Linked DNA regions of Homo sapiens. The protein of the gene in region 2 purifies or fractionates together with the protein of the main gene of each other region. This does not show direct contact. Each region holds a gene or a part of one and is shown on either strand. Other genes may lie near its edges. The genes, in order: LBR and CDC123.

Region 1 (7,305 bases), on a different chromosome or scaffold from region 2:
CTTAACAAATCTAACATGATTCTTAAATAAATAAACCAGATTGAAATTTGAGCCTCGAATGTTCATGAATTGTTTGCAGGTGTGTTTCTCATCATGTTTGGCCTGCCTGTGTTCCTCTTCCTGTTGCTGTTGATGTGTAAACAGAAAGATCCCAGTCTTCTGAATTTCCCTCCTCCTTTGCCAGCTTTGTATGAGTTATGGGAAACCAGAGTATTTGGGGTCTACCTCCTGTGGTTTTTGATTCAAGTCCTGTTCTACCTACTGCCAATTGGAAAGGTACGTTTATGGTAATTCTGTTTTGTTTTAATAAGATGAGGTCTCACTATATTGTCCAGGCGGGTCTCCAATTTCTGGGATCAAGTGATCCTCTTGCCGCAGCCTCCTGAGTCGCTGGGACCACAGGCCTGTGCCATGCTGCCCAGCCTTAGAGTAGTTTAAAGGTTAAAGGCTGTTGTTGGTCATAATTCCCAAAACTTAGTTCATGAAGCCATTTCTCTTGTGCTGTCTGTATAACACTTGCTTATTAGGAGGAACTTAAAAAAAAATCTGATTGAGATTTCTTGTGTAACTTTTCAAACCAAATAGAAAAGAATAGGCTATTTTGCAAAGTAGCCGACTCTCAGTGGAGGTTGCTATGGAAAAAAAATTCACTCTTAGTATGTGTCATTTCAGATGCAGCATTTTAAATGATTAATTGATAGGCTACTGGGCTCGATGGACTTTAGTCTACATCTTTTACTTTAAAAAAGTATGAAAAGTTTCTAATTTTCATCTCTTTCAGAAGCTTGTTGTCAAGAACATTTTACGTTGTTTTCAGATTCCTGCAATATCTTTAAAATTTGTCTCTCCATTGCTAAGTGTAGTTTTTTCTTCTTTCAGTAGAATCCTTTACTTGGATATATTTAAAGAAACATGAGATTCCCTAAGTAATAAATAATTTATTTAAAGATCTTATTCTTAGGGCTTTGCAAGTTTGCCAACTGTCTGTAAACCAAAGGATCGGTTTTACTGGTGAATGCCAGTGATAGGAGGGTAGAGCTGCAGGCTTAATACTGTGGAGTGAGACCATAACTTTAGTGGCTCTAGCAAGGATTTTTGTGATAAAGACCTTCAGTCATTTCTACAGTAAGCCTCTACAGTTAAATTCAGATTCATTTAGGGTAAGGTGATTTCAGAGTATCAAGGAAAGCAGTTTTGGTGTTTAAAGTCATATATGTATATACTCATAGACTAAAGTGACTAAAAGCATATATATTAAAATATATATTAATATTATGCAGTCATCCCTTGATATCCTTGGGGAGTGGTTCCAGGACCTCCTGTACATACCAAAATCTGAGGATGCTGAAGGCCCTGATAAGAAATAGTATAGTATTTGCATATAACCTGTGTGCATCTTCCTTGTATACTTTGTTGCCTTTAGGTTGCTTATAATACCTAATACAACGTAAGTGCCATGTAAATAGTTATCATACTGTATTAGGGAATAAGGACAAGAAAAAGAAGTCTGTACATATTCAGCTCAGATGCAATTTTTTCCGAAATATTTTGGATCTGGTTGGTTGAATCCATGGATGTGGATCCCGTCGATACGGAGGGCTGACTGTATATTTGGATCTATATATTCACAGATTAAAGCCTAACACAGCATTTACTAGACTCCTTTAATAGATAAGGATCATCTGAAATTAGCATGTGGCATTTTACTAATCCTGTGATCTCAAACAGCTTTTACGTTTCTCTTGGGAGAGGAGGAATGCTAGCTAATGAAATCTGTAGCTAATGATAAGATAAAGTAGTTTAGCCCAGAGCAAATGATACTATATTTATATTTTACAGTTTGAAATGAATTGCTACATTTCTGAATAGTTATTTTGTGGGGTAAAACGTGGCTGCATTGAGCAAGTGGACTTTTTACTGAGCCAGTTCTATTGGGTACCATGCCTGTGGGTATCTCTGTGCTGAATGCTGTGAGTGATGCCGAATGAAGAGAGGAGATGGTTCTGATGCATGATGCGTGCTCACAGTCTCTCTCTCTCTCTCTCTTTTTTTTTTTTTTTCTTGAGACAGGGTCTTGCTCTGTTGCCCAGGCTGGAGTGCAGTGGTGCAATCTGCAACCTCCTCCTGGGCTGAAGTCATCTTCCCACTTCAGCCTCCCGAGTAGCTGGGACCACAGGCGCGTGCCACCAGGCTTGGCTAGTTTTTGTATTTTGTATTTTTGTAGAGAGGGGATTTCACCATGTTGCCCAGGCTGGTCTCCAACTCCTGGACTCAAGTGATCCTCCCACCTTGACCTCTCAAAGTGCTGGGATTACAGGCATGAGTCACCACACCTGGTTTCTCACAGTCTCTTATTGCAGATAAAAGAATCACATGAAATGGTTAAATAACTGGATGGGCAATATATATATAATATATAGCAGAGCAAGTAAGCATATGAGTATGCGTCATCAAATAGCACTTGGGTCATAGTAGAGTGGATAAACAGGGTAGAGCCCAATTGAAAAGGACCCCACAAATGGAAGACAATGGAATCATACTGTTACTTTGTAAGAGTATGGTAGCCATTGGTAGATGTTTGAGCTAGGGATCCACTAGATATAAAGGTATTTAAGCACATTTAGTCTTGAGGTGGTGGTACACAGGAGTGTGGCAGGGAGCGTGGCTGTTGCAGTTGCTTGGTCCTACACTAGGAAGTCATTACTGAATTTGTATTTAAGATAAATTCCTGAAGGTGGAATTGCGTCATTAAAGGGCTTGCCACTAGGGTTTTTGAAACATATTACTAAATTTCCATGTTACAAGATATCTTCCTTCTTGGGCGTGTTGAAAATTAAGTGATACTAGAATATATATATGTGTGTGTGTATATATGTATATATGATGGTGATGTGCTTAGTAAATTTGTAAATTTTTTTTCTTTTAAGGTTGTAGAAGGAACGCCTCTTATTGATGGAAGAAGACTCAAGTATAGATTAAATGGTGATTTTCTTTTTTTAAGACTCAAATTGATGATTTGATAGCTTAAACTTCTAAGTGTTAAACTCTTTGTTAAAGCTGATTAGACCAGAGTAGTAAGTGATAAATTATTTCTTAGTAGTTGGAAGAGCAACTGTTTATACCTGTAGCCAACTTGTATAAATTATGCCATTAAAGTAACATAGCCTCTTAGTCACTCTTGTCCACTCTCCAGTTTTATTTTCTTAATAGTGCTCATCACTGTTAGAAATCATTGCACTTGTCTAGGATTTTATCACCTGAGGTGTTACACGGATGTGGGCATCCAGGCCACTCCTGCTGCGTGAGCTGCTCTTGTCCTTGCTCATGTCCTCTGGGTTGTCCCTTGAATATTCGTCACACACACTTCCTGGGCCTTTGCCTGGAGAACTTACCCCCAAACGTCTGACACCTGCATCTTCACCTCCATCTGTCTTCTGCTGAGAGAAGCCTTCAGGTCCCTTTCTCTCCCCTGCTCTGTTTTGTTTTTCTGTCTGACATTTGTGCCTCCACACATCAGTGTATTTGTCTCTTCATTAGGGTCTCTCCACTAGAATGTGGCTTCATGGGCTAGGACTTGGCTATGTTCATTGTGACACTCTTGGTGCTAGGAAGATGGGCATGTAGTGGGTGCTCATTCATATGTGAGTGCTGGATGGATGAGTTGTGAGCTTGCTGGGCAGCTCAATAAATGGATAGACCTTGCTCCCTGTGGGTCCGGCATCTCGCACTGTAAGAGCATGTGCTGAGTGCTTCAGTCCAGCTTTGTCATTTGAAGACTTTGGCAAAGTACAGATCTATTTTGTAGTCATCCTTGAATGATTTTCCATTTGACAAGACGGAGTAGAGTGTTTTCCTTTTCTTGAGAATTACATTATGTATTGTAATGGTTGAACTTTTTATCCTTTCAATTCTTCATTTTTTAACTTTGGATACTTTGTTTAGAGACTTACGCAGCATCTACTCTGTCTGCAGTCACTCCACTGGGTTCTAAAGGGGAAGCCAAAGATAGTTTAGACACCTTCTGCCTTTTAGTGCCAGTCATGTGATAAAACGTCTCCCCCAGCTCCAGAGTCTGACCCCTGGTGGGTGCTTAATACTTATCATTGGTATTGTTAGACTTTTTGTTGCTTTTACCAAATTCTTTGCTGATGGAGCAAGTTTTAGAACCTTTGGCACCCTCCCTCCCTCTGGTGGTTCACTTACCACACCAGGGAAGGTGAGTCTGGGGTGAGGTGGGTTGTTGACTTTGCCGCCAGGTCCTTTGATTTCAGTGTTTTGTGTGTTTCTCTGTAGGTACCAATTCTTTTCTAAGTAGTCTTGTGTTATATTTTCACTTCCCTCTGAGGGGTGTGGTACATTCAGAGACTGAGCACAGCACTTGGACATGGAGCTCTTGGAGCCAGTGGGGGAGTGGCTGGCCAAGTTGCTTGATCCTTTTTAAAAATTTCCTCATCTAATTACTCTGGTTCAAGTATTGAGATTTCTTTTCGAGATTTTACGATTATTAACTAAGGAGGTTCCTAAGACATTTTGGATGATTATTTTTAATCCACATAGGCTAGAGAGCAAAAGACTGCTTTATCTAACCATTCTTTTTTAAAATTACATTTTATGAAAGGTAAATGAATATTTTCAAAAGTCAGAATTTAGAAGTTATTGTTTGGAGTATTTGTGGAAAATGTGGATTCAGATAATTTGAGACAACTATTTTACTTTACAAAAGGTTTGGTTTTAGAATTCTCATATAAATAACAGCTACCTCTTTTTTGCTTTTGACCGTTTATCCAAATGGATTTGATGACTTTTTAGGATCACAGCTCTTTGAGGCACTCAGCTCCTTTGAAAGCAAAACTATTTCTTTAGCCAAAAGAAAAAAATTGGATCTTCCAGTGAGCCTTTCTGTGTGGCTGCAGGACTAGCCCGGAACGAGAGTTCTGTGGAGCGTCACAGGGCGGGTGCTTTTTAACTTGGCATTGCACGTGAATGTCCCCGCCTGCTGTCCCTACCCCCCAGGTACTCGCAGTCCCCTGCCTAGCCTCGGGCATTTGTGTTGTGGCATCTTTTCTGCGGGTGGCATGTTAAGATCTCTGTTCTGGATGATAGAGTTTTACTAGAATCTTTTGAAACCATTATTGGCAACTTGGTTAAGTATAAATATTTATAATTTTGTAACTACCAACCTGGCTCGGTGCCTGACCCCTGGTAGGTGCATAATACCCTCCCCTTAGGTAATGGCATTAGACTTTAAAATATGTGTTTGGCCCAGCTCTGTTAATAATTAGCCATTTGACTTTGTGCCTGAGAGTTTGGATTGTGGGAATTTTCAGGTTGCACTTCTTGTCTGTTTTCCCTTAATTAAAAGCAAATAATGACCATTTGAACTGAAAAAGAATCAATATGTTAAACTATTTGGAAAGTTCTACAAGAGATAATGGTATGTATATTGAAAATTATACCTCAGACATTGCTTATTTGCATATTTGTGTGTATTTAGTCTGAATAATGAAATTAAGACTTTAAAAATGAACATTGCATTGTTTCATAGTGGCGTAAGTTTCATGTGAGCCTTGGGTTAATATTAATTTTCCACTTCCTTTTTTTTTTTTTTTTAAAGGATTCTATGCTTTTATCCTGACATCTGCAGTCATCGGAACATCTCTCTTCCAGGGCGTAGAGTTTCATTACGTGTACAGTCATTTTCTTCAGTTTGCACTTGCGGCCACTGTTTTTTGTGTGGTCTTGAGTGTGTATCTCTACATGCGCTCTTTGAAAGCGCCCCGGAATGACCTGTCGCCTGCCAGCTCTGGTGAGCAGTGATGAATTGCATGTTGGATGAATGCGTCCCAGAGCCCTCCAGCAGCCATTTCCAGATTTGAATAGATTGCTTTTTTTCTAACTTCATTTTTGGGAAATGAAGAGAAGTAAGAAAAAATGAAAAGATGAAGAAAAACGTTAAAGAGATATGAATTTAAAGGAAGAAAATATTTTTGTTTTACCTTCATACTTTCTTACTCATTTCTTTTTTTTGCAGTTGCTTGATGACAGTAAGACGTTTAGTAAACTTACAGGCATTTTGACTTATGACAAATATTATTTCTTTGTCCAAAATAGTAAACACTCTTTAAAAAACAAAAAACAACAGAGGTTACTGGCCGGGTGAGGTGGCTCATGCCTGTAATCCCAGCACTTCGGGAGGCCAAGGCGGGTGGATCACCTGAGGTCAGGAGTTTGAGACCAGCCTGGCCAATATGGTGAAACCCCATCTCTACTAAAAATACAAAAATCAGCTGGGCGTGGTGGTGCACACCTATAATCCCATCTACTCGGGAGGCTGAGGCAAGAGAATCGCTTGAGCGTGGGAGGCGGAGGTTGCAGTGAGCCGAGACTGTGCCACTGCACTGTAGCCTGGGCCACAGAGCGAGGCTCCATCTCAAAACAAAACAAACAAAAAACAAGAGAAACGAGAGGTTACAAATTGGTTGATGCTGACCTGAAGTATTTCAATATAAAAAAATGTCGCCTATCTAAAAAAAATGGAGTGTAAAGTCCTTTGGGGGGGCCCCCATGATTTTGGTTAACTTTTTTAAGAAACCTGGGCCCCCGGCTCCCCCAAAGGCTGGAGCAACTGCCTTTTCAGTCGGGCAGGCATCTCCTGGTTCCGCTCGTCTGTGCCGTCCTGTCTGCCTCTCACCACCAGAGCCCTGCTCAGGGTCTTGCAGGCAGTGGAATTGTGAGCCTGGATAGTGGGCGGCAGTGCCGTTGTAAAGCCTCCTGACTGGGTTTGGAATGCTGTTTGGGTAAACACTTTTCCTTTCTCAGGAAATGCTGTCTATGATTTCTTCATTGGCCGTGAATTAAACCCTCGAATTGGTACTTTTGATCTCAAATACTTTTGTGAATTGCGCCCCGGATTGATTGGATGGGTATGTCTGGTTTTTTTTCTTCTAAATTTCAATTCAATAGGTCTAATTAACTGCTAGAAAGAAATGTAGACCATTCAAAAATAAGCAGTGGGTGGTATATTTTTAGGGATAATTATGGCTTTCCATAAATCTATCAAAATACTTTCTTGTAAGTATTTTCCAGAGGTTTAAGATGCCCTGTTACAGGTTATGACAAATTAAATAACTTTTCTTTGCTTTATTTTTATTATATCAGTTTATATTTATGTAGGAAAGTGATAGTGTGGATGAATTAATGTAAGAAAAAATGCATTTTCCTCCTTTTTAAATTTTACCTAGTTTTAGGCTTGGAGTTGCAGATAGAGAGCAAAGAGTTCCCTTCCACCCTTCATTCTGTTTCTCA
Region 2 (7,305 bases):
ATTAAATAATTATTAATTACAGTAATAAGACCCATTTGTGATTTAGGCCAAGGGTAGAATTGATCGACTAAAATATTGAGAAAATAGTGAGAGAGTTATTTTGGTGATTCATTGTGACAAACCTCAATAATAATTATATCAAAGTAAGCATTACCTCATGGTACTTAAGGTAGACAACTTTAGAATTATATTATTTTATTTTACTATATTTTATTTTATTTTATTTTTTAGATGGAGTTTTGCTCTGTCGCCCAGGCTGGAGTGCAGTGTGGCGCAATCTCGGCTCACTGCAACCTCCGCTTCCTGGGTTCAAGCGATTCTCCTGCCTCAGCCTCCTTAGTAGCTGGGGCTACAGGTGCCTGCCACCACACCTGGCTAATTTTTTGTGTTTTTAGTAGAGGAGGTTTCACATGTTGGAGCGCAATGGCGCGATCTGGGCTCTCTACAACCTCTGCCTCCTGAGTAGCTGGGATTACAGGCACCCGCCACCATGCCTGGCTCATTTTTTTGTACTTTTAGTAGAGACGGGGTTTTACCATGTTGGCCAGGCTGATCTTGAACTCCTGACCTCAGGTGATCGCCCGCCTCAGTCTCCGAAAGTGCTGGGGTTATAGGCGTGAGCCTCCGCACCTGGCTGGAATTACTTTATTATTTGATATTCCTCAAGGGGTGCAGAACATATGAATGAACGTATGGCACTGTGGTGAAAAGTTGTGACTACATTCTTGGTGGTGTGCTTGTATGTCAGAACTCTCAAAATGGCAGTTATGTGACAAGGATGCATTTTGTCATAGAATTTTAGCACAATTTTCCTGTGGTTATCAGAATAATAGATCACAACTCTATTCCCTACATCTCATGTGAAGAATTTTTTTTTTTTTTTTTTTTGAGATGGAGTTTTGCTCTTGTTTCCCAGGCTGAAGTGCAATGGCGTGATCTTGGCTCTCTGCAACCTCCACCTCCCGGGTTCAAGTGATTCTCCTGCCTCAGCCTTCTGAGTAGCTGACAGGCATGTGCCATCATGCCCGGCCAAGAATGTCATATGCCTCTTTTTTTAAAACCATTTGATAATGGCAATCATTAAGATACAGTGTTGACCTAAAATTGCCTAGTAGACCTTACCACATAGGTGTGTTATATTAAATATTTTTTCTTTTGTTTACAGCTCGTTCTCCGAAAATGGTGTGAATTGATTCCTGGGGCTGAGTTTCGATGTTTTGTCAAGGAAAACAAGCTTATTGGTGAGTTTTTGTTTGTTTGTTTGTTTTATCCTTCAAAGTCATCTTTAAAAGAAAACAAGCTTTTGTTGGAAGTAAATTTCCAGTAATTAGGACAGGGATGTCAATCTGTTTTCATCTCAGATGCCACCTCTAACCAGTTGATACTGACTCTCTGGAATGCTGTGTTGACAGGAATCCTGAGCCCAGAGTCACTTGCCGCAGGAAACGGTATTGTCAGATAATCATGGCTGTCTGGATTCCAGAGATAAAAATGGTGGTTGTCACTGTTCCTGATTTAGGAATCAGGAACTCTGTGTATGGAATTTTCCTAAGCAGTACTTAGCAATAGTCTGCTTATTTCAAGCGTCATAAAAAGCCAAGTTTTGGAACCTTTATTTCTATTATTGGGGCACTGTTTATTATTCTAGCAAGAGAAAATATGTGGACAAGTAAGTGTATTCTTCTAAGTCACCCATTTTCTTTCCTCTCAGGTTACTGTTCTGTTTGCTATGATTGATTTAACTTAAATATTGAAGATAATTTGTTCTTTATTTTGTTAATGCATATTTTCCATGAAGTAAAATTTATCTTCAACCTAGAAAAGTGTAATTTGAATACAATCACATCAGCACTATTGATGCATTGAATGTGATGTTGAAATGTATGAACCCACCTGAAAGAAAGTTGGGGTGTTCACATTTCTCATATTGCTCGATATTCTTGAAGAAGCTGCAGTGTAAGTACTCTAAAGCGGGGGGTCCTGTTGGCACAAGATTCAGGAATAGGAAGCCCGTATTTCAGAGCAGAGAACTTTTCCCTAGGACTGGAGCAAATTCAGGGAGTTTGTGTAATAGTCCAGTTAGTGTGTTTGGAATCTTGTCAGCAAGTCACTCTGAAAAAAGGAATGTTTACTTTTCCATGGCTTGAACGAGAGCAGGCTGTGAAGGCCAAGTAGCATGTATGAACAAGAAAAATAGACTGCTTCTATGCAATACAGTATGAATATGGCAGGCATCTCTTGAAGAATATTTGATATTTTCCCAAAGAAAGTGGAAGAGAATACCAATTTGCAGAGACTCTTTGGAAGAAAGCAAAGCAGCAGCAGTTGATTATGTGTGCAGGTTTAGAATTGCTGCTTTAATTTTTTACATAACAAGACTTTTTGTGACTTTGAATTCCTTCCATTTTACTAAATGAAAATAACTGTTTCCATGGGCAAGGTGCTGTGGCTCACACCTGTAATCCCAACAGTTTGAGAGGCCAAGGCTGGAGGATTGCTTGAGGCCAGGAGTTCAAGACCAGCCTGCGCAATGTACTGAGACCCCGTCTCTACAAAAAATAAAACGATGAGCCAGGCATGGTGGCACATGCCTGTAGTCCCGGCTACTCGGGAGACTGAGGTGGGAGGGTCACTTGAGCTCAGAAAGTGGAGGTTGTAATAAGCTATGATTGTGCCACTGTACCCCAGCCTGGGCAACAGAATGAGACACTGTCTCTAAAAAAAAAAAAAGGCCAGGTGCGGTGGCTTACACCTGTAATCCCAGCATTTTGGGAGGCTGAGGTGGGTGGATCATGAGATCAGTTCAAGACCAGCCTGGCCAAGATGGTGAAACCCCATCTCTGCTAAAAATACAAAAAAAAATTTGCTGGGTGTGGTGGCAGGCGCCCGTAATCCTTGCTACTTGGGAGGCTGAGGCAGGAGAATCGCTTCTCGGGCAGCAGAGGTTGCAGTGAGCCGAGATCGTGCCACTGCACTCCAGCCTGGGCAATAGAGTGAGACTCCGTCTCAAAACAAAACAAAACAAAACAAAACAAAACAAAAAGTAAATTCTTCCAGAAGTAAGAAGACATGGCAATGTAGGACTTCAGGATTCACCTGTTCATATGAATCCTTACAGCTGGGTCGTGTGTAATGCCGTACCCATCAGGGTGATCTTCTAATCTACTTTAATGGTTCTTTCCACAAAATGTTTAAATCACGTATTGATGTTTTTGAAAAGAATATTGTATAATAACAGGATGTAAAATATTTTCTTGTCAGGTATTTCTCAAAGAGACTACACACAATACTATGATCATATTTCTAAACAAAAGGAAGAAATTCGCAGATGCATACAAGACTTTTTCAAGAAACACATACAGTACAAATTCTTAGATGAAGACTGTGAGTATTTTTTTATTGATCCAGTAAAATGAAATGAAATATACATTGTTACTGGACCTTATTTACTATGGTGTGTATCCTAATAACTAGATTTGAAATACTGTATTGTAAGCATTTTACTATATTATTATTTGTTATTTTTGATAGTTTGTATGTTAATTTCTTTTTATTATTATTATTTTTATTTGGAGACAGTCTTACTCTGTCAGCCAGGCTGGAGTGCAGTGGTGCGATCGCGGCTCGTGCAGCTTCCACCTCCCGGGTTCAGGTGATTCTCCTGCCTCAGCCTCCCAAGTAGCTGGGGCTACAGGTGCACGTCACCACACCCGGCTAATTTTTTGTATGTTTAGTAGAGATGGAGTTTCGCCATGTTGGCCAGGCTGGTCTTGAACTCCTGGCCTAAGTGATCCGCCCACTTCAGCCTCACAGTGTGCTGGGATTACAGATGTGAGCCACCGCACCAGCCATGTTAATTTCATCTTATTTAACTAAAATCTATTTTTACTGCTAAGTCAGTTCCCTGTCTTGTTTTAGATGTTTGATTGTGTATTTCAAAGGGGCTATCTACAGAGAACAAAGTCTATCTACCTTTCTAGCTTCTTTGAATGATCAAAGACAGCACCAGTTACAAAGTAAACATTTGTGGGTTGTTTTTAGGAATTGAAAGTATATTGTGTAAGAGTTTTCATACATCTGAAAATTATATCTGCTATGATTTACAATTTCTCTACTTGCCAAGACTGGGCTCTGTGGCAGATTTGACTTAAAATAAGATGAATCATGCTTCAAGGCTCATTAGATTTTATGCTTTCTATTATAAGCTTTACTCATTGCATTCTACCAGATCAGTGATTGATGCCCGTTTCACTAGTACTTTGCTCAGTGACTCCCATCTTTCCCATAGAACCAGTCTATAACGGGGAACTGGTTGAGATGATATTGGCGTTTGGTTTGAATTTTTAAATATAGGGGCTTATGGTTGGGGAACAGAGAACAGTAAAGCAAAGTTATATAAATAAAACATTGCAGGATGCCTTTTTATGTTTGAAGTTTTGAGGTTTAGAAGCATGAAGTCCTCAGGGTCATTTATATTCTGCTGTCTTTGATTAAAATGTACTTTAATTTTCAAAAGGAGATTTACATTGTGAAATATTAGTTCATTAATAACTGACTTTTTTTCTCCTTTACAGTTGTGTTCGATATATACAGAGACAGTAGGGTAAGTAAAAACTCTTTCTGATATGCTTTAATATAAGAGCTGGTTTTATAAGCAGGCAGAGCATGCCTTTGTTATGTGTGTGAAGGATCCATGCTCAAAAAATATTTTGTCTGGGTGCAGCAGCTCATGCCTGTATTCCCAGCACTTTGGGAGGCTTAGGCAGGGAGATCATTTGAGCTCAGGAGTTCGAGACTAGCCTGGGCAACATAGTGAGCCCTCATCTCTACTAAAAATTAAAAAAAAATTAGCCCAGGCCAGGCACAGTGGCTCACACCTGTAACCCCAGCACTTTGGGAGGCCGAGGTGGGAGGATCACTTGAGGTCAGGAGTTCAAGATCAGCCTCGGCAACATGGTGAAACTCCGTCTCTACTAAAAATACAAAAAAATGAGCCAGGCATGGTGGTGGGTGCCTGAAATCCCAGCTACTCAGGAGGCAGAGATTGCAGTGAGCGGAGATCACGCCATTGTGCTGCAGCCTGGGCAACAGAGCGAGACTCTGCCTCAAAAGAGAAAAAAAAAATATCCGGGCCTGGTGGTGTTTGCCTGTAGTCCCAGTTATGCAAGAGGCTGAGCTGGGAGGATCACTTGAGCCCGGGAATGCAAGGCTGCAGTGAGCCTTGATTGCGCCACTGCTCTCCAGCCAGGGTGACAGAGTGAGACCCCATCCCCTCCTCAAATTTTTTTTTTTTTCTCACATCAACTAAGGTGATTGAAATTCACCATGGTCAAAAATCTCCCCTTAAAATATACCTAACATTAGAGGACTTAATAGCTGAAATCATTGTGTACCATGGTTTAGGGATTCTTTATTGAACAGGTAGGTAAATGAGCACTTACGTCCTATGTCTCATTTGTGTCAGAGGTCAGGGCCTGCTTAAAATAGTTCAGTTTGCACACTTAAATTTGGCCAGGAGTTTGTCACTTGATATTTATATAATTATTTTGGCCGGGTGCAGTGGCTCACGCCCGTAATCCCAGCACTTTGGGAGGCTGAGGCGGGCAGATCACCTGAGGTCGGGAGTTCGAAACCCACCTGACCAACATGGAGAAACCCTGTCTCTACTAAAAATACAAAATTAGCCGGGCATGGTGGCGCATGCCACCTAGCTACGTGGGAAGCTGAGGCACAGGAGAATCACTTGAACCAGGAGGTGGAGGTTGCAGTGAGTTGAGATTGTGCTATTGCATTCCAGCCTGGGCAACAAGAGCGAAACTCTGTTTTTTAAAAAAAAAAAAAAGGGGCCGGGCGCGGTGGCTCACACCTGTAATCCCAGCACTTTGGGAGGCCGAGACGGGCAGATCACGAGGTCAGGAGATCGAGACCATCCTGGCTAAAACGGTGAAACCCTGTCTCTACTAAAAATACAAAAAATTAGCCGGGTGTGTTGGCGGGCACTTGTAGTCCCAGCTACTCTGGAGGCTGAGGCGGGAGAATGGCGTGAACCCGGGAGGCGGAGCTTGCAGTGAGCCGAGATCGCGCCACTGCACTCCAGCCTGGGCTACAGAGCGAGACTCCGTCTCAAAAAAAAAAAAAAAAAAATTATTATTATTATTTTTAGTCAACTAAAAGTGACTCAAAGTTTGAGTTACTTTTATCTTTAGACAGAAGAGGATTAGTTTATTTTTTAAATCTTAAAAGTGATGAAAACTTCTGTAAGGAAAAAGTTAAAGTGACTTACTAGTAAAGTTACTTACTGCTGACTTAATGAAGAATTACTAGAGCAGAGATTTCACTGTCCAAGACATGTCATCTTTATTAAGAAGTTTAGGTCACTAAATGCTGTTTGGTGCTGAGTGCTCTTTGACATTGTGAAGAAGCTAGCAGATGCGTTTTCCCGTGTCACCTACACACAAGCAGAATATTTCTCATTCTCTCTCCGTGCTTAGATCAGCCTCATTGTAAGTGAGACAGTCATTTGAATCTGAATCACCTTTGGACATCTTCGAATCATCTTTGGACAAAAAGATATGGCCCATATGATCATGTCCCAGAATAACTGTTAACTGTTCATTTAACTCTTACGTCAAAAGACATCACTATATTTTCACCTCTTTGTCTTCAAAGATGATGGTGTCTGTTAAGAGTTACTAGAAAGAGGGGCTTTAGGCCATTGTTGTGGCTCACGCCTGTATTTTCAGCATTTTGGGAGGCTGAGGTGGGAGGATGGCTTGAGCCCAGGAGTTTGAGATCAGCCTGGGCTTAACATAATGAGACCTCGTCTCTACATAAAAATTAGCCAGGTGTGGTGGTTTGTGCCTGTAGCCCCAGCTACTCCCGGGAGCTGAGTTGGGAGGATCGCTTGAGACTGGGAGGTTGAGGCTGCAGTGAGCCATGATCATACATGTCATGCCTAGCAGTGAACACCAGGTTGTGTCTGGTCTTCTGCAGTCTGCCATGGTGAATAATCCCGTACGTGTGTCATTTCACACGCTGCAGGTGAATCTACAGGGTGAATTCCTAGAAGCGGGATTGCTGGCTCAAAAGTGAAATGTATTTTAATGTTGCAGTTTACCCTCGGTAGAGGTTACACCTGACCAGATCCCCCCAGGAATGCATCACAGTACCTGCAGGCTTCCTCAGAGCTTGCCTTTACAATATAGGGTTACACTCTTCAGGGTTTTTGGGGTTTCGTAGAGAAATGATGTTTCAGTATAATTTCTACTTCTATTTTTCTTAGTAAGTGAGGATGAAGTTTATCTT

Evidence for each region.
Region 1: the proteins of CDC123 (region 2) and LBR purify together in Homo sapiens (affinity purification with mass spectrometry; 2 studies listed by BioGRID and IntAct, with this or other methods). This does not show direct contact.

Annotation. Positions count from the first base shown.
Region 1 is NC_000001.11:225,410,955-225,418,259, reverse strand, and holds part of LBR (delta(14)-sterol reductase LBR), read left to right. Parts: intron 1-79; coding exon 80-276; intron 277-2,927; coding exon 2,928-2,982; intron 2,983-5,614; coding exon 5,615-5,806; intron 5,807-6,819; coding exon 6,820-6,923; intron 6,924-7,305. UniProt on the Homo sapiens protein: Catalyzes the reduction of the C14-unsaturated bond of lanosterol, as part of the metabolic pathway leading to cholesterol biosynthesis.
Region 2 is NC_000010.11:12,233,883-12,241,187, forward strand, and holds part of CDC123 (translation initiation factor eIF2 assembly protein), read left to right. Parts: intron 1-1,165; coding exon 1,166-1,241; intron 1,242-3,261; coding exon 3,262-3,384; intron 3,385-4,574; coding exon 4,575-4,603; intron 4,604-7,305. UniProt on the Homo sapiens protein: ATP-dependent protein-folding chaperone for the eIF2 complex. Binds to the gamma subunit of the eIF2 complex which allows the subunit to assemble with the alpha and beta subunits.